Homo sapiens: one gene and its partners. The protein of the gene in region 3 purifies or fractionates together with the protein of the main gene of each other region. This does not show direct contact. Each region holds a gene or a part of one and is shown on either strand. Other genes may lie near its edges.

Evidence for each region.
Region 1: the proteins of CHRDL1 (region 3) and ZNG1C purify together in Homo sapiens (affinity purification with mass spectrometry; 2 studies listed by BioGRID and IntAct, with this or other methods). This does not show direct contact.
Region 2: the proteins of CHRDL1 (region 3) and LRP1B purify together in Homo sapiens (affinity purification with mass spectrometry; 2 studies listed by BioGRID and IntAct, with this or other methods). This does not show direct contact.

The regions. Positions count from the first base shown.
Region 1 is NC_000009.12:68,251,622-68,259,135, reverse strand, and holds part of ZNG1C (zinc-regulated GTPase metalloprotein activator 1C), read right to left. Parts: intron 2,216-7,514; coding exon 2,156-2,215; intron 605-2,155; coding exon 567-604; intron 1-566.
Region 2 is NC_000002.12:142,127,640-142,135,255, reverse strand, and holds the start of LRP1B (low-density lipoprotein receptor-related protein 1B precursor), read left to right. Parts: upstream 1-4,239; 5' UTR 4,240-4,415; coding exon of another isoform or gene 4,416-4,526; coding exon 4,527-4,608; intron 4,609-7,616. UniProt on the Homo sapiens protein: Potential cell surface proteins that bind and internalize ligands in the process of receptor-mediated endocytosis.
Region 3 is NC_000023.11:110,673,642-110,681,155, reverse strand, and holds the end of CHRDL1 (chordin-like protein 1 isoform 1 precursor), read left to right. Parts: intron 1-1,730; coding exon 1,731-1,820; intron 1,821-4,794; coding exon 4,795-4,925; 3' UTR 4,926-7,300; downstream 7,301-7,514. UniProt on the Homo sapiens protein: Antagonizes the function of BMP4 by binding to it and preventing its interaction with receptors. Alters the fate commitment of neural stem cells from gliogenesis to neurogenesis.

The DNA of each region.
Region 1 (7,514 bases), on a different chromosome or scaffold from region 3:
ACTAATCCTATGTGTATATCCTGATTTTCTTCAATATGTACTTTTTAAATTTTAAGTTCCAGGGTACATGCTCACGATGTGCAGGTTTGTTACATAGGTAAACGGGTGCCATGGTGGTTTCCTGCACCTATTAACCCATCACCTAGGTCTTCAATATTTTTTAAAAACTCATTTCCAGTGTGTGTTTAATAGTAATTTAACAAGAAAAATAAGATCTCAGATGCTTTATCAAGCTCAGCTTCTTCTATGGAACAGAAAAACTTAGCAATATTGGGGTTGAATCCTTGTGAAGAGCTATACATACCAAACTCTATCCTAACCCCATATGCTTATTACAAATTATAATTCCAAATTTTATCACCAAATCAAACTCAGAGTAATAGAAAAGAAATATTTAACACAAACTAATAATTAAAACACAAATTTCACCTATTGTTCAGGATATCTTTTTGAGAAAGGTTTTTGTTAAAGAAAATTTCAGATACAAACATAAAGAAAATTAAACAATCAATCCCCATATTCCCAGCTCTCAATAATGAGCCACTCATAGCAATCTTTCAACTTACTTTTAATCCATATTTTGAATCCACAATAGTTATGATACCTACAAAGGAAAAAACATTTTAATCACTTTTTAAAAAGAATGCTTATTAATACTTGTGCAACCATACTTCAGAATGAAAATTAAAACTAACCTATTTCAGTTCACAAATACTACTCAATAAAACAATGTACTGTTTTTTTCTCTTGCCAGTGCTGCCATTTAATTAAATTCCAGTAATAAGTCAATGCATTTCCTGAGTGGCTAGCACTATTTTAAGGCACTAGAGAAGATATAAAACAAATAAAAATTTTAAATTAAATAAATAAGAAAATAAGATTTCCTTGGCACTGAAAAAGCTTACAATCCAAAATATAAGTCAAATTTCATAACATAGTCAAATGTGATAAGTACATAAGACAGGTTATTTCTAGTTTATTTTCACATAATCAAAATCAAGACTTTTCTTAAGATTTAAATTATTGCCTAAAGAATGAGACATCTTAAGGTATCATTCCTAACATCTCTCACCAAATCCAAATCCAAATCCAGCTCATAAATGTTTTACATAACATATGCCTAAGTTTCCAAACTACCAATTCATTTTGCAATCTCTGAATATATGCTGATAACAAAAGAATGAGTTTAATTATGCTAAGGAATTCAACCAGTTACCCGCCACATATATTAGAGCTCAATGATGGGGCCCAGCTTAATAATTCTTAAATTTCTTAATGATTATTACTTTTGAAAAAGTAAGAAAATTTCGACTGGTTTTTAAAAAGGTGAAAAAGGGAAAGAGAAAGGGAGAAAACATAGTCGCTTAACTAAGAAAGTTTCTAATATATTTTAAATGAAGGCATATCATTGCCCAAAAGTGTTCAGGTAAATAAAGTAAGGGAGGAGTGTTTAATTCTTATCTTCAAGAGAAAATAAAAGCAAAAATATGATCCTCATATTGCCTGGAGGATTAAAATAAAAGGCTCTAACATTATATTAAGGGCATAAATCAAACAACAGAGGATACAGAAAACCTACAAAGCATTTTTTTTTTTAAAGAAAACCTTAGTGGAAGCACTAAATTGGAAGTTGAGTGACATCGATTTCCACCACTGTTTGGGGTTTTTTAATCTATATGAACAAAGATTTCATCATTAAACTAAAGTGTGAAAAGAACAACAATGCAAGGAATTAAAGTTATAATATGAATGAACAACAATAAGCTTAACCATAAAGATTTTACTAAAAAACAAAAGAGGCAGGGTGTGGTGGCTCACGCCTGTAATCCCAGCACTTTGGGAGGCCGAGGCTGGCGGATCACCTGAAGTCAGGGGTTCAAGACCAGTCAGGCCAACATGGCGAAACCCCGTCTCTACTAAAAATCCAAAAATTAGCCAGGTACGATGGTGCACGCCTGTAGTCCCAGCTACTCGGGAGGCTGAGGCAGGAGAATCACTTGAACCCAGGAGGTAAAGATTGCAGTGAGCCGAGATCATGCCACTGCACTCCATGCACTCCAGTCTGGGCAACAAAGTGAGACTCTGTCTCAGAAAAAAAAAAAAAAAACAAAAAAAAAAACCAAGAAAGATAAAAGAAAACTGTTTTTTAACTTACCATCAAGGTAAATATCACTCCCTAATTCAGCATCAACCCAAAACATAGAAGCCACTGCACCTGAAAATATATAATATTCATCAAATAAAAATATTTCTTCACACTGAGAAACATGATTCTATCCATGTTTTAATTTGCCCTGATAAAATTAACAGGTAAACACATATATCTTCTTATGGAAATTATAGTGATAGAAGCTTTAACTATTTATAGCAAAAGGGAATTATAGTGATAGAACCTTTTACTATTTATACCCATTCCATTTCCATCTCTCGTTATTTCCTTTAAAAAAGACCAATTCTAACCACATATAAACAAAACATCATTCTTCTACCGATGCCATAATAATTTAATTAACAGATATTATCAAACAATTTGAGCAGTATGGCTTTGTGCACATCAGACTTATTTTTATTTTCTCACCTCTTTAATATGATAATCATTCAATCATAAATAGTGAATTATCACTCTAAAGGAAAAGGAAAACAAAACATAGATAATTCCAAAATCACTTGCCCAAAAAAAATTTACTTGTAATCTGTGTAGAACTAGAAGTAAAATTATATACTCTATGGCATTACTAATTATTCCTCACACTATTTATTTAGGACTGTATAAAACCTGGGTCTTAGGAAAAATTTTTCCTAAATAATAAATTAAAACTTGCTTTTGACAGAAATTGGTTCAGTACCAAACCACATACCCTGATTAGTATGCCACAACGCAAGAAAAAGAAAACTGACAGCAAGGAAAGTATTTGATTTTTGAAAGCATCACAGGCCCAGTTAGTGACAGGGCTGTCTAAAAGAATGAGTGTAGGAGAAAAACAAGGATAATCAAACTCATTCCAACGTCTAAAGCTGTCCACCTGCTCTGACAAGATGTGGTCCCCCAAGCATCACTCTGTGTCAACAATGAAATACCGGTCAGCTGTTTACAGTGATTACTCATGCAAGATATAGCAAGGGCCACAAGATCTAATGGTTTCCTGATACCTATTGATTTTTTTCCCAAAAACGTAATAGTTTTCCAATTTGACTCAAATAGGATTTGTGAGTAACAGGGGCTGAATCAATGTCCGTTCTTTTCAAGGAAATTACTTTACCATGACAATTATTTAACTTAGAACTGGAGAGTGTCAGTCTCCAAAATGGGAAACAACTGAATTGCCAATAAGAATTCTGTTCACTTTCTTGGCTAAAACATGATTTTAATTAATGAGGGGGAAAATTAAATCTACTGTATCACTACTCCAAACAATAAGTCATTTAAAAAAGCATGAATTTTTTCACTCAGTAAAATATCTAACATACATAAATCATTTTGTAATTTTTAAAAATTCATTGATTTTTAGTCTAATAAATAGTTTACAAATCCTACTGTTAATATTTGCCTCTTAAGTTGAAATGTAAGAGTATATTAATGCTTTATTCTAAAACTGGTATTTATCTTTGATATAATACTTGCCAGACTACATGAGAAAGATCTATTTAAAATTTGGATGTAGGTATTTAGGAGGAGTAAAGATGAATGAACAAAATTGATTAGTGGCTCTCAAACCAGGGTGCTTTTCTCCCCAGGGAATATTTGGCAATGTCTGAAGATGTTTTTGGTTGTCTTAACTAGGGGAATGCTACTGGCATCTAGTGGGTAGAAGCCAGGGATGTTGTTAAATATCCTACTCTGCACAGGGCAACCCCCTCACAACAAATAATTATCCAACCCAAAATGTTATTTGTGCTGACACTGAGAAAACCTGAACTACATTTTAGAATCTCCCTTCTTCAAAATCTAATAAAACAAAAAATAAAAATAAAAAATAAAACAAAAAGGCCAACATTTTATTAGCAGCAACCAAATATAAAAGGGCCTGCCATAAATTTTGAAGACTGATAGTCAAAATAAGAAACAAAGTTATATGTGATTGATGGTCATTCCCAACTCTACCCCTACCTCCAATAAGAGGTTGTAGGGAAATAGTTTACAAAATCCTAAACACTTACCAGAAATACACTCCAAAATGGCAAAAAGTAGAGCCGAGGAATGAATAAGCAACAGAGGGAAAAGTCAACAAAAAAATTTCAAGAGTGAGTTTTAACCATCTCCATGCTTTGGGAAGGAGAAGGTCAGGTCACATTCTAGGGCTCAGAACAAAGAGAAATGAGAGGTCTGAGGTCGAATGATGTCCCCATACAAGGCAAAGGAATTTTATTCATAAGCAGTTGGGCAGACCCAAGAGTGAAATACTTGGTACTTCAAGAGAGCAGAGCCTAAAAGCCACATTGCCCCATTTGGCTCTCTGAATCACCACTTTTCCCTTCTCTTTCCCTCCACTCCAACAATATACAGCTTTCAAACTAGGGCTCAGGAGAAAAACAAACTTGGGTAAGGAGAGTGGAGTATTAAAAATATTTCCCATCAGCACCACATAGAAGTTCTCCCATATCAAGAAGAAACTTGTATGCATATGTATTACAGCCTGACAAAAAGAAATACACACATACAGGGAATAAAAAGCAAGAAAGAACACAAAATGAAGAAATGAATAGGGCATACAAGTGGCAAAGAACCCATTCTGGAAGGATACATAACCCAATAAAAACTAAAGAAAATTCTCAACAACTTCATCATAATGAAGAACTTGAAAACAATACAACCTTATAATAAACAAGCTCAAAAGCAAGAAGCAGAATAAGATGAAAATGCAGTTTGTAGTGCTAAAGAAACTTAGAGCCTATATAACACAATGACTTAACCAATTAATTCATTTAAAATATCAAAAACAGGACAGATACTGGAGAAAACAGAATTATTGACAAAAAGAAAGGCTTCAGATGATCACAGTAAATGCAAAGGTAAAAGACAAATCAAAGCAATTAGAATACATACGAAGAACAAAAGAAAATTCAGTATTAAAAAAACTGGTGTCATGAAGTAGAGGATCTAATAATTTGACCAAAAAAAAGTATTCATGGTAACAAACAAGGAAAATGTTCTTAGAAGAACTAAGGGCATATTATAATTTAGGGAAAAATGATTATAAGTGACACTTAGATATACCTTGTTTATATTACTGAATTTCAAAAATAAAGAAGAAAACTCTCAGGCATTTTAGATTAAAAAAAAAAAAGTGCCTTCAAGGAGGGAGGGAGAAAAATCAGACTTTTCTACAGTAACACTAGATGTCCCAAAATAATAAAACAGTGACCACAAAGTTCTAATGAAAGTGTTCCCAAACAAGTTATTTTTCAGGAACGAAAGCAATAGACAGACATTCTCAAGCATTAAAGAAAACAGCAAGCATTGAAACTCAGAGACTATAATACTCACAAATTCTTCCTAATAAAAGGAGAAAACATTGGACAAAGAAATCCAGCCAATCAAACACTAGGAGATTATGGAACAACATTTACAAAGTTGAGGGGGAAAAAAGTGTGACTGATAAATTTTATACCGAGCCAAGTAATCCTTCAAGTAATATAAAAACAAAAGACAAATATTTTGAATCAATGAAGTGTATAAGAACCCAAAGAATGCATGCAGTACCTGTAACTTGAAAAGACTGCCTGACAATGAAATTCAATCAGGAGATGGACTAACTCGGGAATGGAGAAGCAACAGTACTGGTAATGAGCACCAAAACTATTAAAACATAGAACTAAAAGAATTATGACAGAACCATGACAACATAAAGAATATGATCAACATGAAACTAGGCCAATTAATATCCTACAATGGCCTCTAAGTGTTCAAGTGAAAGGAACAGTCACCTGTTTCTCACTTTAAATCAAGAGCTAGAAATGATTATGCTTAGTGAGAAAGTTATGTTGAAAGCCAAGATACGCCAAAAGCTAGGTCTCTTGAGCCAGTTAGCTAAGTTGTGAATGCAAAGGAAAAGTTCTTGAAGGAAATTAAAAGTGCTACTCCAGTAAACACACAAATGATAATAAAACAGCCTTATTGCTGATATGAAGTGGTCTGGATAGATGATCAAACAAGCCACAATGTTCCCTTAAGCCAAAGCCTAATTCAGAGCAACCCTAACTCTCTTCAGTTCTATGAAGGCTGAGAGAGGTGAGGAAGCTAGAGAAGAAAAGTTGGAAGGTAGCAGAGGTTGGTTCACAAGATTTAAAGAAAGAAGCCATCTCCATAACATAAAAGTGCAAGGGAAAGCAGCAAATGCTGATATAGAAGCTGTAGTAAACTACCTAGAAGATGTAGCTAACATCATTCATGAAAGTAGCTACACTAAGCAACAGACTTATTTTTTATTTATTTATTTATTTATTTTGAGATGGAGTCTCGCTCTGTCACCCAGGCTGGAGTGCAATGTGCAATCTCAGCTCACTGCCACCTCCGCCTCCCGGGTTCAAGCCATTCTCCTGCCTCAGCCTCCCAAGTAACTGGGATTACAGGCTCCCACCACCAAGCCAGGCTAATTTTTGGTATTTTTAGTCGAGATGGGGTTTCACTATGTTGGCCAGGCTGGTCTTAAACTCCTGAACTCGTGATCTGCCCATCTCGGCCTCCCAAAGTGCTGAGATTACAGGCATGAGCCACCGAGCCCGGCCAGCAACAGATTTTTAATGGAGATGAAATGGCCTCCTTTTGGAAGAAGATGCCATTTAGGACTTTCATAGCTATAGAGAAGTCAATGCCTGGCTTCAAAGATTCAAAGGACAGGCTGACTCTCTTGTTAGAGGCTAAAGCAGCTGGTGACTTCAAGTTGAAGCCAATAATCATTTACCATCCTGAAAATTCTAGGGCCATTAAGAATTATGCTAAATCTCCTCTGCCTGTTTTCTATAAATAATAAAGCCTAGATGACAGCACATCTGTTTACAGCATGGTTTATTTTAAGCCCACCATTGAGATCTACTGCTTAGAAAAAAAAAGATTCCTTCAAAATATTATTGCTCATTGACAACACACCTGATCACCCAAGAGCTGTGATGGAGATGTACAAGGAGATTAATGTTGTTTTCATGCCTGCTAACACAACATCCATTCTGCAGCCCACTGATCAAGGAGTAACTTTGACTTTTAAGTCTTATTTAAGAAATATATTTCATAAGGCTATAGCTACCATAGATAGTGATTCCTCTGATGGATCTAGGCAAAGTAAATTGAAAACCTTCTGGAAAGGATTCATCATTCTAGATGCCATTAAGAACATTCGTGATTCATGGGAGATCAAAGTATCAACATGAATAGGAGTTTGAAAGATGATTCCAGCCCTCACAGATGACTTTGAGGGATTTCAGACTTCAACGGAGGAAATAACTGCAGATATGGTGGAAACAGTAAGAGAACTAGAATTAGAAGGGGAGTCTGAAGATGTGACTCAATTCCTGCAATC
Region 2 (7,616 bases), on a different chromosome or scaffold from region 3:
TAATCCTTTCTCTCTCTCTCTCTACCTCCTCCGCCCCCTGTCTCTCTCAGTCTCTTCCCTTTCTTTTTCATCTTGTGTCTGCTGCTGCCTGGCAACTTTTCTGTCTGGAAAAAGGCAGGGTAAGAAACTTAGCAGGCCTTGCAATGATAGCTGCAGAAATCCTTAGCAACCTAACTTTCAGGCCAACTCTCCTTCACACACATCTCTTCCATGAGACAGACTGTCAGCTCCAGCTTGTTTAGACACACGTCCTCTCCCTAACTTAACGATGTTCAGATGTGTAGCACAAATTGTTACTATCTACAGTAAGAAATCCAATCTCACAAAAATAATTAAGTTAGCAGAAATGAAATGTGATGTTTGATCACATGTATGGAAACTGTGGCTCTAATTGGGAAGTGTAAGATTACCACTGACTGATAATTAGCATTCATGTGTTGTTTTAAAACAAAAAGGAAGAATGATTGGTTCTACTTTGTTTAATTTATCTTAATGAGAGATTTCATAATATTCTATAGTTTGATGAATTAATTTAACTTGTCAGTGTTAATAACTCTGATTAGAATGAATAAATTATAATGGAGCCTAGTAACAAACAAAATTCGAACGCTCACTCAAGCTTTTCCCTCTTCACTAATAGTGCACTTTATTAATTTATTTTTTCATTAAAGCATATATTATGGGGAAACAAAAGTATTTCATAGAAAATTATACTTAAGCTTTTCATTTATTTATGATCCATTAACATTCAATGGTCATTTAAAACCTAGGAGCAAATTATTTAATTTTAAAGCTCAAATTTGGTCTACACTTTTATCAACCTCACTGATGCTCATAGAAACCAATCTTCTTTTATAAACTGGTCATTTTCAAAGAATATCTGGAAGAAGAACCACTTTATATAAGAGATTTGATGTGGGACAGACAATTTTATCCCATTTCATTTTGACACCGGCTTTATTTCAGTTTTGGAGCAAATATATATTTTCTGCTTAATATTTAATCTGTTTATTTCATATTTTGGCTTCTTGGTATGAATCAGTGTCCTTAGTATAAATTTTAGTCTTAAAAACTCTTAACAAGCATTTAAGTTCATGTGTTGTTGTCCACTTAAGTACTGGTGCATACCTAAGCACCTATACTTTCACCAAATTTTTGAGAGAGGTTTTATACCATTTAGATCTTTATTAATCATGGTCTTAAAATAAAGCTTCAATTTTTTTTTTTTTTTTTTTTTTTGAGATGGAGTCTCACTTTGTCCCCTAAGCTGGAGTGCAGTGGCGCGATCTCGGCTCACTGCAACCTCCGCCTCCCAGGTTCAAGCGATTCTCCTGCCTCAGCCTCCTGAGTAGCTGGGACTACCAGTGCATGCCACTACACCCGGCTAATATTTGTATTTTTAGTAGAGACGGGGCTTCGCCATGTTGGCCAGGATTGGTCTCAATCTCCTGACCTCGTGATCCTCCCACCTCATCTTCCCAAAGTGCTAGGATTACAGGTGTGAGCCACTGTGTCCAGCCTAAAGCTGCAAATTTTATTTTATAGATAATACTTCATTAAGATTAATTCACAGTGGAAATTAGGCTTATCATGTTACCTTTTATTGGTGCTCCAGCCTATACTTTAGTAACTAATCTTCCATATTTACTATCACTATTTTATAGTAACTGTTTTGAGTCCTATGTCATTCATGATTACTGACTTAATTGGTGATTACTTAAGAATTCTATTTTGCTTTATTATTCTGGTCACAATGTGCAGACAATGCATTTTTGATTTTTTTCCACTCAATGAAATAAAAAAGTCAACCAGATGATCTAAAAAGATCATATGGTTTTTACTCTGGCTAATTCATTTAACAGGCTATTAGGAGGCTCTACGTATTTGGAATGTTGTATATTTAGAATACAAAATCTCCTGAGTATTTGCTACTCTTATGATCTTTCCTAGCTTTTCCCTTTTCCAAGCTGACCATGGAATCTAGGGCTGCTGCACGTACTACAGAAGTGAATGAGTTAGTGATTTTTAATCATAGCATTGGGGCACTTTAGTATGTGGTAAAAGTCTTTGGTGGGTCATACTGTTCCTGGCTGCTTTCCTTTACTTTGCAGTGAAGTGGAGGGCGATTGGTGGTAATCTTTCAGAAGAGGAAGAATCTGGATGTCCTTAGTATGGTTTGTAAGCACTCCTCATTTTCTTGCCAAGAGTTAAGTGGATACAGATCTCCTAATAGCTGACCTTCTAGTTGACTGAATGGGATCATGTAAGAAAGACACCTGCTACGTTGTCCCAGTGAATAAGTTTGTCATACAATACAGAGGTCTGTGGACCCTCGAGAAAGAAACATTTATTACTTGGCACATCATTCAAATCTCTCTCTGTCTCTCTCTCTCTCTCTCTCACACACACACACACACGCGCGCACACACACATATTCTTTAAACTCTGCCACTCATTTCAAAGTTTGTGAATTTTCAGTATGAAGTAAAATATGTAAAAAAATCTTTTTATTCTATATTGTACACTATATTATGAAATAATAAAAACATCTAGGAAAAATTAGACATGTAACAACTTTAGAAGAAAAGAAGCATACACTTCTCTACTAAAAGTACAAAAAAATTAGCCGGGCATGGTCGTGGGCGCCTGTAGTCCTAGCTACTCCGGAGGCTGAGGCAGGAGAATGGCGTGAACCCGGGAGGTGGAGCTTGCAGTGGGCCGAGATCGCGCCACTGCAATCCAGCCTGGGCAACAGAGAGAGACTCCGTCTCAAAAAAAAAAAAAAAAATTAAGCATACACTTTTGAATGTAGGAGTCATATTTCAAACACAAAATGGTTGTATTTTCAAGGGAAAGTAAACTTTATAATTTAAAACATGGAAAAAGTGACATAAAATACATTTATAATCACAGAGTAAGAATAAAAAGGTGAAATCCACAGATTATTGACAATGTTCTGCAAAGTCATCTCTGTGTTCTTTCATCTAGTCCAGTTTTTAATGGCTTCAAAGGAGCATCTAAAGATATTTCTGGATAATTTTACTCTCATAAATAGGTAGATAGTAATGCTGGCATTCACTTATAAGTCTCAAACAGCAAAGTAAATAAAGCTTTTAAAGCATCTTCCTTCACTTTTCAATCGTTCTCTTCCTTAGTTCTGTTCCCTTCTCATAGTTTTCCTCTCCACTCATGTCCAGTTTCAAAATATTAAATATAAAACCTTTTCAACTCTTGTTCTTAGAAGAGAATTCCTGATGTTACAAGGAAGAAAGTAAGTCTACAACTATTAAGATTTCTGAGTTTTAATTCCGTAGCCACTTTGTAATGGCAAACTAAAATTTTAGGGACTGGGATGATCATGTTGTAAACTTAAGTGGTCATAAAAACAACTTTACTAATATTATTATTCCAGTGATTCCCGTTGATGCCTCCGATGGCTCGGGAAAGTTCTTACACCGCCCCTGTAGTATATGGAAAAGGAAAACAAAACAAAACACAAAACAAAAACAACAAAACCCTCAAAGCCTGTTTAAAATGGCTCGAAGTACCCTTTTAAAGACAGAACCCCAGAGAAAAACGCTGCCAATTCGTTGCTTTATTGTTCCCTGCCTGGGGACCTCAATAGCCTTTTCCATTAACCTTCCCTTCTTACGCAACGGTTAATGACTTTGGGGGTTGTTTTGCTTTCTGTTTCTGCTGAGTCACTAAATTTTGCCTCTTTGTCCCCAGGTGCTGCTCAGCATAAAAGTTAAAAGTGCAATTCAGGAAGTACTGGGATTCTGTGTAGAGCCGAGGAAACCATTTCCCTAAGAGAAGCTCTGTTCCTTGGCTTGTCCTTCCTTCCCGGGAAGGAAGCTTCCGAGGAACGAAGGGAGAAGCTTTGTTTTGCCTGCAGAAGCAGCCCTGTGCTCGGCTGAGGGTTCTCAGCTGGCTGTGAACTGCGGAGCATTGTAGGCGCCTGGCTGGCTCAGGCCAATGCAGAAGTCTCTCCCTTCTCCAAAGACCCAAATCCCCACAGAACCAGCTTCGAGTTACTTTCCCTTCAAGGGGATTAAAATAATTGTGATTTGTGGCGCTCTCCGTTCGCGGTGGTATTTTCCTGTTGTGTTAAATGCCTCTTATTAAGTAATAGATGTGATTTATGTGAACGACGAAGGGGTGTGTGGTGGATTCGGTGATTAATCAGTGAATTCCCATCCGCTGGCATCTCTCACTGCCCCTCTTGCGTGATGTAAGATCAGACGTACCCTGCATTGAAAAGTCAAGACACACGGGCGTCTCGCTCGCGCTCACACACGCTCTGCCTCCTCTCTCCCGCACGCGCGCATCCCTCCACCTTCCACATCCTGCTCCAGGCAGGAGAAGGCTGACTGGCTGGACTCATTGAGCTGAAGAATTTCCAGTGACATTTGTAAATGACGCCGCTCGATTCCAGGCTCCAAGCGGCCCCTGCCGCCGCCGCCGCCGCCGGGCCGAAGGTGCCGCCGAGCAGTCTCCAGCGCAGGCTTCCTTACCGGGCGACCACAATGTCCGAGTTTCTCCTCGCCTTACTCACTCTCTCGGGATTATTGCCGATTGCCAGGGTGCTGACCGTGGGAGCCGACCGAGGTAAGGAGAACACCTCCCCGCTCCCCTCCCCTGACTTCCTTGGCTTTCCTGCTGGGCGATGCTTGCAGATAAGTGAGTGTGAAACTTAAGTCCTTGCAGCTCCGCTCCCCGGGACCGGGTGACCACCGTGCGCTGGCCCTGTGCGGGGGTGAGAGGTGCGGTGCGGGATTTCTGAACCAAGTGCCTGAGTCCTCGGCACCCCCACAGCTTTTCCCTTTGGCCGTTTCCCGGTCCCCATTTTGTCCCCTCCGGGAGTGTGTGCACTTGGCTGTGCGCTTCTGTCCGCGAATTCTAAGCGCTGCAGATGTTGGAATGAGAATTCGCATTTCCGAAAGACTTCCCTCCGCGATGGCCCTCAACTGCGAGCTTTTGCGAGCTCCAGGTTCTCCGCGTTAAGCGTGTCCGCCCTCAACTTAGCTCCCAGGTTAACTTCCTTACCTGCTGCATTCGAGGTCCGTGGAGCGGCGAAAGCGCCGATTCAGGCCCCTTTCGTTTCTATAGCCCCTTCCTGGGGGCAGACTGGGGTCAGAGTCCTGTCATCAGCAGAGAGGCTTTTAGGACGATTCCGGGCGCACGCACCTGCTTGAAATTGACTTTTCGATTATGAGGGTCTGTGACACAGCCCAGGTGCTCTGAGGGGCTAACCCACCCCTGGAGTGCCTCTCTCCAGTCTGGCGCTTTGCTTTTCCTTTTTCTCCAAGCAGCTGGTGAATGGTAGAAGTTTAGAAGGGAATGGATATGGGGAGCAGAGGAGAAAGGAGGTAGGAATTAGAAAAAGCCGGGATTCTATAAACTTTTCATCTGGAAAATCAAGAATCCCTGTGCGAGTTTAATAATCTTTGACAACAGATGCACTGGTGAAAAAGGGAGGAAAATACTAGATGAATATTTGGGGCACTGGCCCTGGCCTTGGAATGGTTAACTGGTTAAAGTAAAATCAGAAGTATCATAGATTTTTTTAAAATCAGAAAATGAGCTTATATTGACTGGTATAGTTCAGCTTTTTAGTTTAAATAAGAGAGAGAGAGAGAGAGAGAGAGAGAGAGAGAGAGAGAGAGAGAGAAAGAGAGAAAGAAACCCAGATCCCAATGCCAAGCAAATAGGCAGAATGTTGCATTGGGAGATTTAGTTATTGTATTTACATGAAGCAGATTATGAATTGACAAAAAATATTGCTTCATTATAGGAAAGAACAGGGGAATGAACTGCAGTGTTTCTATTCAACCTGCTGTTGGCAGCCAGATTCTAGCCTTTGTAACATACCTACACGTGTTATTTCCTCTACCAGTGGTGGGACTAATCTGAGTTCCTTTAGGAAATCTGACACTTATTGGTGATAATCTTTTAAGCATATCATTGCCACCTAACCATAGCTTCTGAACTTGCTCAACTTGCCTTGAAGTTGGTGTGGAATGGTTGGAAACTATACTGATGAAATGGAAGCACATAGCTCGCCTTGAAATGATGATGTCTTTGATCTGGAACAATCAGCTCTCAACCTTTCTTAGGAAAAATGTTTGAAGTTGGACCAGAGCAGATGAACAGAATGGAGATTTTCAGCCCAGTATGCTAGCAAAATATAATGGTACTGGCAGACTACTGCTATTGGGCTCTTCCTGATTGAGTCTCCAATCTCCAGAAATTTGACTTCATCTAAAGCTGAGTTCTCAATGCTTTTGTATACATTTATGAGGATAGAACTACTGCTACCATGATTGGAGTAAATATCTGAAGAGAATTTTGTATAGAACATAAAAAATACAGACCCCACAACTTTCTTCTGAGATAGAATATTAAATAACTAAGAGGATTATATTTGGTGCCAATTTAGTTTCATGAGGGAGAGGAACATCTAAGATAGAAGCAGAGCACATGGTAAACGATTGCTAGTTTTTTTCTAAAAAATGAAATAGTGTCGTGTTGTATCACCACGTCCACATGAAGTACTATATCAGATAGCACAAGTAAAAATAATTGTAGACCAGCACTTTGCCACTATTATATATTTAACACACTTTCAAAACTGTTAGCAAAGAGCTAAAATTCTCACAGTTACCAAAAGTGAAAAGGATGGGCCCCATTTGGAAAAAGGAATTTTAAAGAGAGAAATCTTGTTGAAAGTTAAGAAAGAAAGTGTTACTGCATTATGACAAGCTTCCCTCACTAATATGCTGAAACAGAAGATATGGGAATATAAACTCAAGAAAGAGGTTAATGAGATGTAACTTTCTGCACAGGCTTATGTCAATCGTCCTTGAATAACAGAACAGGCATGTGAATTATACAGATGCGTTTTGTAGTGCAAGAGCTAACTGCTTGACAAAAAATGAGAATTCACATTTAGGTTCTACGTGTACTTATTGTGTAATAGGTAGCTTCTCAAACTGTATGAACTATATCAGAAGTGTTTGTATTACCTTCTAGCTGTGTTTTTCCTTTATACATTCATAAGTTCAAACATTGTATTAAATAGAACAAGGCTTGAAACTAACTCGTATGTTTATGTTCAAACCATATACGTGCACTTGTCTTTTAATTCCTTATTGTTTATTTTATTAGTTTATATTGATTCTATATAGAGCTAAACTAATGTACATGTAAGTTTTTATTACATTCTATCACATCTTAAAAAGGAAACATCTTTGTAACTCTTAACAGCCAAAATTGGAAGATAAATCAGATTCACTTAGAATCAACTAATTTGTCATATAACAATGTCATATCATATCAAAGTATTGCTTGATAAGGATTAAAACTTAAAAGGAAGTATATCTTAAAGTGTCAAATTTTCTGAAAAGGGATTGAGAGGCCTAATGCTAGTCTGTGTTAAATTCTCGAGTATGATACAATGTGGAGACACATTTCCAAATAATTAAAGTTCATGCTGTTATAGTCATTTTAATGTATCTGTATAGAAAACCATCAAACAATGGCAATTAAATGTATATCAAAATTTTAATCTCCCCTCAAAGAAGAATGAACTGCGATTTATGTCTCTTCATATGCCA
Region 3 (7,514 bases):
CCTACCCCCAGAGATTCTGATTAGTTGGTCTGGAGTGGGGCATGGGCATCAGTGTTTGTTCATAATGCTTCTCAGGTGATTGTAATATGTAGCCAGGATTACAAACTGTCAAACTGTAGTCTGTCATTCTTTCCAGAATAAAGCTCAACAACCATGAAAACCCATTCATTCAGGGCAAAGCTAAGTCCCTAATATCACGATGTGTCTTCTGGGGTAAAACAAATTTAAAACATCATCCCTGCCCTCAAGAAGGTTATAGTCTTACTGGAGAAACCCCAGTCACAATGTTCAATTCCTTTTCTGATTACTCACAGTGACTACCACAGCAAGCCACATTCTGTTCATTGTGATCCTACAGCTCTTCTAACTTTTTGTAGGCTCAAGACTAGTGCTTATTTAGTGTGGTCAAGGTTCCTCACAATCCAAGTGGATAAGTGAGATTTCAGCTGGAAAATATACACATCTTTTTGCTATTGGCTCTCACATAAGGCTCAAGAGTACTCGAACTTCTGTATGCATCACCATTACACAGGGAGCTGGTTTTAAATGCAGATACCTGGCCCCATCCCAGAGATAGGAATTCAGTAGACCTTGGGTAGAGTCCAAACATTTGAGTGTTTAACAAATAGCCAGATGATTCTAATGCAGGTGGCACTTGGACCATGCTTTGAAAAAGACTGCTCAGTATTTATGAGGCTTTTTTTCTCTCCCTTTAGACAACAGCCTTTATCTAAAGAATGCATTTCTCCCTAAAAAAAAGATGCTTGAACATGTATATATTCACTCATGCTTATTTTTGGTCTATGCCTTGGAGTGTTGATTTGCCATCTTTAACTCCCTAGCTCATCCATAACAGGACACCTAGGACTAGGCACTGGTTTGTTGCGTTTCCCCAGCAGTGGGCCCACTATTCGTCATCCCACATCTTTCGCCTCTCAGAGGTGTGCAGATGAATTTCAACTTGCTAATGTAGCGTCTAAATATCCTCTTGTTCACAGTTCTGGGTTATCAAGGTCTATGCTTGGTGGACACAGAAAAAGAGGCTTAATCTACTTCGCCCATTTAAGTGGGCTGGTAATATGTTGCTCCTTCAGTATAAGGCAGTTGTCAGTTGTCTACCTGTTATTGTGATAAAAGCTATTCAGGCAAGGTTGAGACTGTGGAGAGCACTCTATTTTAACTCTCCCCATTTATGAATAAGGAAGGCTAAAGGATCTGTGAATATTTCCCAAAGGAAAATATGCTTTTCAGTGAGTTCAAGAACAAGGGTGGCTTCTCCATTTACAAAACCAACCTGCCTGCAATCCCACTGCAGGCTCTCAGTGCTTAGCCAGGAGGGCAGCCCAGCGGTTTGGCATGGACACAGTCTATCCAGGTTGGGGGCAAGTGCAGAATTTCTAATACTGCCTATGGCTGCAGAAGCTCCAGTAAGCACTTATGCTAGATTCCATGTGGCTTTCCCTAGGAGAGAGTCCCATGGTCAGCAGCACTATCTCCCTTATCTCCATCCACTGGAGAAGCCGAGGGGAAGCCAGTAAGCCAAGGAAACAAATGGAGTCAATTATAACCCTTGAGCCATCCAAGTTCCTGGTTAAGCACATTACACAGCCCAACTCGATACTCTTAAGCCCTAGTAATGAAATGATATGCTGAGCCTGAGCAGAAAAAAAGGAGTTGATGGTTCCAGATTGAGTGCCTGACCATTTGCTCCACTTTTTGCTTGGCCCTAGGCATTCTCCAGCACTTCCATATTGAGAAGATCTCCAAGAGGATGTTTGAGGAGCTTCCTCACTTCAAGCTGGTGACCAGAACAACCCTGAGTAAGTAGTACTTCTCTTGACTGCTCCCTGAAAAACACATTCAGTTTTCAATTTAGCATAGCCACAGCTAAAGTCCCTCCGCAATCTCAGTGAACATTAGCACTGCTCAGTATCAACACTAAAGGATGTTCCATCTCTCTTCTGGGTGACTTAGCAGTGAATGGGGTGTCTGAATGTAATCTGAAGAGCTTGGACATGGTGAATACAAACCCAGATGTAGTCTGAGCATAGGATACCTCAGGTCAAGGCTTCCTGAATGTCTTTAATGAAACTGCTAAGCACAGAGTCTCAAGAGGGTTGGAGAAAGCTCATAAGATTCCAGGTCTGGTATATTTATGGAGACTTCACATCTGGAAGGGTGTATCCTCTGGTGGTGGGTATGAGAGGCAAAGAGAAATTAAAGGCATATCAATTCCTGTGTTATATGAAAGCACTTTTACTCCTGGGGAACTGCCCCTGGGTGGTCATGTTTCCTTAAAAGCATTCAGGCACTCAAAAACACTTGCAGCTCTCCCACTTTCCACACTAGATGGAGCCTAGGGACTAAGATACTTCTAGGCATTGGGGCGGGTGTTGAGCACTTCTAATGGGATAAAAGGCACACAGTTTCTATCCACAGGGAATTATAATGGATGAGACAGAACATGAAAATGACTTCAGTATGAATTAGTATAGTTCTGAGGAGTTAAATATCAAAGTGCTCAGGGGAATCTGCAAAGAACAATGAGATGAGAGCCAGGTGGGCTTAGTCGGGGAAGGCTTCGGGGAGGAGGTGTGTTTTGAAAGAGAAGGGTATGACTGGGCAATGGGTCAGGAAATCAGTCCAGGAAAAGAGTGCAGCCTAAGAGAAGACTCAGACAGGAGCAAACAGGAAATGTGGGTAGGGGAGAGGAATGATCACAAAGGCCACAGAAGGTGCACTAAAAGATTAGAAGATTTGGAGGTAGAAAGTAGTCATAGGGCCTGAAAAAAAGCCAGTAAAATGTTCAAATGTAAGGCAAGTAGCATCTGTAGTTGCTGCAAATAGCATAGAGATATCAACATGGTGCTTTGGAAAGATGTCTTTCGGCTATCAGATGCATATATTACATTAAGCACACACTTTGACGAAGCCAGATTATGAAGTGCCCAATTTATCATGCTAGGACATTGGACTTGATCTCCAGGCCAGAGAATGCCAGTGGAGGTTTTTAAGCAAGTGAATGGTGCATTCAGATCTGCTTTATTTATTTTTTTATTTTTTTAGAAAGAGGTCCTCGCTGTGTGGAGTGAAAGGTGGACCCTTATTAAGAGAAGTGGGATAGTCTGAATTAGGAACTAATTATACTATATTAAATCAATGAGACGGGAGGAGACGTCACTGTGAGAAACATTTCTGAGGTTAAATCAACAAGATCAGCATCAAAGAGAGAAACGAGTTTGGAATGGGTCCGATATTAATAACTCGACTGGGTGAATAGTAATACCATTCACCAACAGGGAAACTGTGAAGAATAAGCAGGTATTGGTGAAAAAGAGTTTCACTTGGAACATGTTTAAATTAATATGCTTAAGAGCCATCTGAGCAGAGTTAGGGTCCAATAGGCAGCTAGAAAAAGAGCCAAGGCAGTCAGTTGCTTGTCTTTGGCAGGACTCATAGAAAATAACAGGACAGTATGAGAATTCAAATGGAAAAGTTGGGAGTCCTTACATGTGAGTAAGAAAGGAGGCAGAGTGTAAGATCCTAGGATCAATTATGGGACTTCTGAAGTTACATGTTTTAGTTCATACTGTGAACAAGGCTTTGTTCTAGGTTCCAGGGGACTTAAAAGATGATTTAGATATACTCTGTGCCCATGGCAGGATTTGGGGTATATAATGGAGTAGAAGGTATGTGCCTCAAACTGTGTGTAGCTGAAAGAAGTTGGTATGATCCTACAGGGTCACCTAGGAGCAAAGAAGAACAAACCCAACTCTTTTATATAATGTGCCTAGCAGAGCCCAGCACATTATAGGGCTTCAGTAATAGCTGGTTCCTTGCCCAAATCCTCTTCTTGTTTTTTTGTTTTTCCTTCTATCTTCCCATTGAGTCATAGAGAATGGGGAAAAGGGAGAAATCCAAGGGAGAAAGGAGCAGAGAAATCAGGCCCATAGGGAAGGTGGGTCATTATTCTCTTGTGGCTAAGGAAAAGAAAAAGAGGTTCAAGACAGGTTTGGGCTTAAGAGGAGTTGGCTTAACTTGGACTAGGAGTTCTCCAGGTTGCAGTACCATGAGCACAGGAATAAAAAGAAGACAAAACACAGTATCCAGGGTGGGCAGAGACAACAGGGGATGGAAGGGCTACAGCCAAGTTTACTCTGCGTGGAAAGGGATTCCATGGGGTATATGAGAATGGATGAGGAACCATGGGAAGGGATTTAGGGTGCTAAGGGGGTATAAGGACAGCATGTGGACGTAGGAGAAAGCAACGTCGAGAAGTTTTTAACAAAAGATAGCAGGAATAGAGGAAAGAGTGATATATAATCAAATAGTAATCAAGTAACCCAAACCAATATTTGGGGACCCTAAGGGTAAGCAAAGCCCCAGTAATACAGTAGGTGCCGTTTTCCAAAGTGCCTTTTTGACCTGGTGCCAAGTAAGCTGCCTAAATAGCTAACAAGCAGATATTGAAGCATTTTGTAAATGCTAAATATACTGTAAAAATTCCAAGAATAACACTTAGGTTTTGCTCTTGAGGAGGGGCAGTTCTATATTATTCTTGGGATTCTTACAAATGCTATGTGTTGAAATGAAAACTTCATTTCCCATTTTCCATATCTGCTACTAGAAAAGTGTTTTGGGGCCATTTTTTGAAACCAAGTGATATTTGTATTCCAAATTCCCTGGTAGGTCCATGAGTAAGTGGGTAAGCATGGGGTATATTGGTTCTATTCCTAATTTGCTCTGCTTTCCTCTTACACACTCCCGGCCACTTTGCGTTTGTTTGCCTTTTAGGCCAGTGGAAGATCTTCACCGAAGGAGAAGCTCAGATCAGCCAGATGTGTTCAAGTCGTGTATGCAGAACAGAGCTTGAAGATTTAGTCAAGGTTTTGTACCTGGAGAGATCTGAAAAGGGCCACTGTTAGGCAAGACAGACAGTATTGGATAGGGTAAAGCAAGAAAACTCAAGCTGCAGCTGGACTGCAGGCTTATTTTGCTTAAGTCAACAGTGCCCTAAAACTCCAAACTCAAATGCAGTCAATTATTCACGCCATGCACAGCATAATTTGCTCCTTTGTGTGGAGTGGTGTGTCAGCCCTTGAACATCTCCTCCAAAGAGACTAGAAGAGTCTTAAATTATATGTGGGAGGAGGAGGGATAGAACATCACAACACTGCTCTAGTTTCTTGGAGAATCACATTTCTTTACAGGTTAAAGACAAACAAGACCCCAGGGTTTTTATCTAGAAAGTTATTCAAGTGAAAGAAAGAGAAGGGAATTGCTTAGTAGGAGTTCTGCAGTATAGAACAATTACTTGTATGAAATTATACCTTTGAATTTTAGAATGTCATGTGTTCTTTTAAAAAAATTAGCTCCCCATCCTCCCTCCTCACTCCCTCCCTCCCTCCTTCTCTCTCTCTCTCTCTCTCCCTCCCTCTCTCACAGACACACACACACACACACACACACACACACACACGCACGTCCACACTCACATTAAACGAAAGCTTTATTTGAAGCAAAGCTAGCCAAGATTCTACGTTACTTTTCCCTTGACTGGATCCCAAGTAGCTTGGAAGTTTTTGTGCCCAGGAGAGTAAATAACTGTGAACAAGAGGCTCTGCCCTTAGGTCTTTGTGGCTGTTTAAGTCACCAACAATAGAGTCAGGGTAAAGAATAAAAACACTTTCATAGCCTCATTCATTCACTTAGAAGTGGTAATAATTTTTCCCTAATGATACCACTTTTCTTTTCCCCCTGTACCTATGGGACTTCCAGAAAGAAGTTAAATTGAGTAAAATCATCAGAAACTGAATCCATGTAAGAAAAAATAATTGTTGAAGAAAGAAGTTGATAGAATTCAAAAAGGCCATCTTTTTGCTTTCACATCAATAAAATTTACCAAGTAATAGATCAGTACTCACTAATATTTTTGAGACCATAGTTGTCTGGTCAGAAAAATTATATTAAATTAGTAAATTCTAGAAGCTCTTTAAAAGGGAAGTTTTCCTTCTTCTCCAATTATAGGAGTTGATTTTTACTTTGCAAAGTGGCTCGGTCCTCATGAGCATCTGCATGTTGACTCTTCAGTTAAGAAAATTGTTGTTCATTTAGGGAGGTGGATATTCTGATGAAGATCTTTATCCTAAACCTTCCTACTATCCTTGTCTTATTCATCAAGCAGATATTTTAGTCAAGAATTCCAGAGAAGGCTGCTCCTAAAATGTCTACTTGCAGCCCAATACCAGAGCATAAACTATCCATTCTGGGGTCTGGCTTTAGAAATCATCTTTGTGGGAAGACCTAATTCTTCACAGCAAGGATCTCAGGCATGCCTTCTAGATTTGTTCCCTCTGAGGGGCAGGAATGAACTGTAGAAATGTTTTAAGGACCCAGAAACCCCATATGTCTCATTCCATGACTATAGGTGAGAGAATTCTTTCCTAAGAGGGTTTGATACCAATAGGGGAAAATGTAAAATGTTCAGTCTTTATGACAACCTGGCATAAAGGAGTCAATTCTTATGAAAGAGACACAAGGGCCTTATGGCCAGGGTTTCTTGGGACAAGACTCTCACCAGCACATCACACACGTTCTCCTTGGAAGAGAGAAGCAGTACATCCCGGTTGAGAGGTCACAAAGCATTAGTTTGTGTGTGTGTGTGTGTGTGTGTGTGTGTGTGTGTGTGTGTGTGTGTGGTAAAGGGGGGAAGGTGTTATGCGGCTGCTCCCTCCGTCCCAGAGGTGGCAGTGATTCCATAATGTGGAGACTAGTAACTAGATCCTAAGGCAAAGAGGTGTTTCTCCTTCTGGATGATTCATCCCAAAGCCTTCCCACCCAGGTGTTCTCTGAAAGCTTAGCCTTAAGAGAACACGCAGAGAGTTTCCCTAGATATACTCCTGCCTCCAGGTGCTGGGACACACCTTTGCAAAATGCTGTGGGAAGCAGGAGCTGGGGAGCTGTGTTAAGTCAAAGTAGAAACCCTCCAGTGTTTGGTGTTGTGTAGAGAATAGGACATAGGGTAAAGAGGCCAAGCTGCCTGTAGTTAGTAGAGAAGAATGGATGTGGTTCTTCTTGTGTATTTATTTGTATCATAAACACTTGGAACAACAAAGACCATAAGCATCATTTAGCAGTTGTAGCCATTTTCTAGTTAACTCATGTAAACAAGTAAGAGTAACATAACAGTATTACCCTTTCACTGTTCTCACAGGACATGTACCTAATTATGGTACTTATTTATGTAGTCACTGTATTTCTGGATTTTTAAATTAATAAAAAAGTTAATTTTGAAAAATCATCTGTAGTCTTGTTGCATAAGTAATTGACTCTCTGGTCAGTGCTGACCTTGGACAGGGTAACAAGTCATGGATGGGTGCGGTGGTTTCACAATAACCTTGACATTCTTATACTATAGCATGGTGGTTAAGAGTGTGAACTTTGCAGTCAGACTATTTAGATTTTTAAGCCCAGCTCTGTACTTACCAGCCGTATTTGTCAGTCTTTCCAACTAT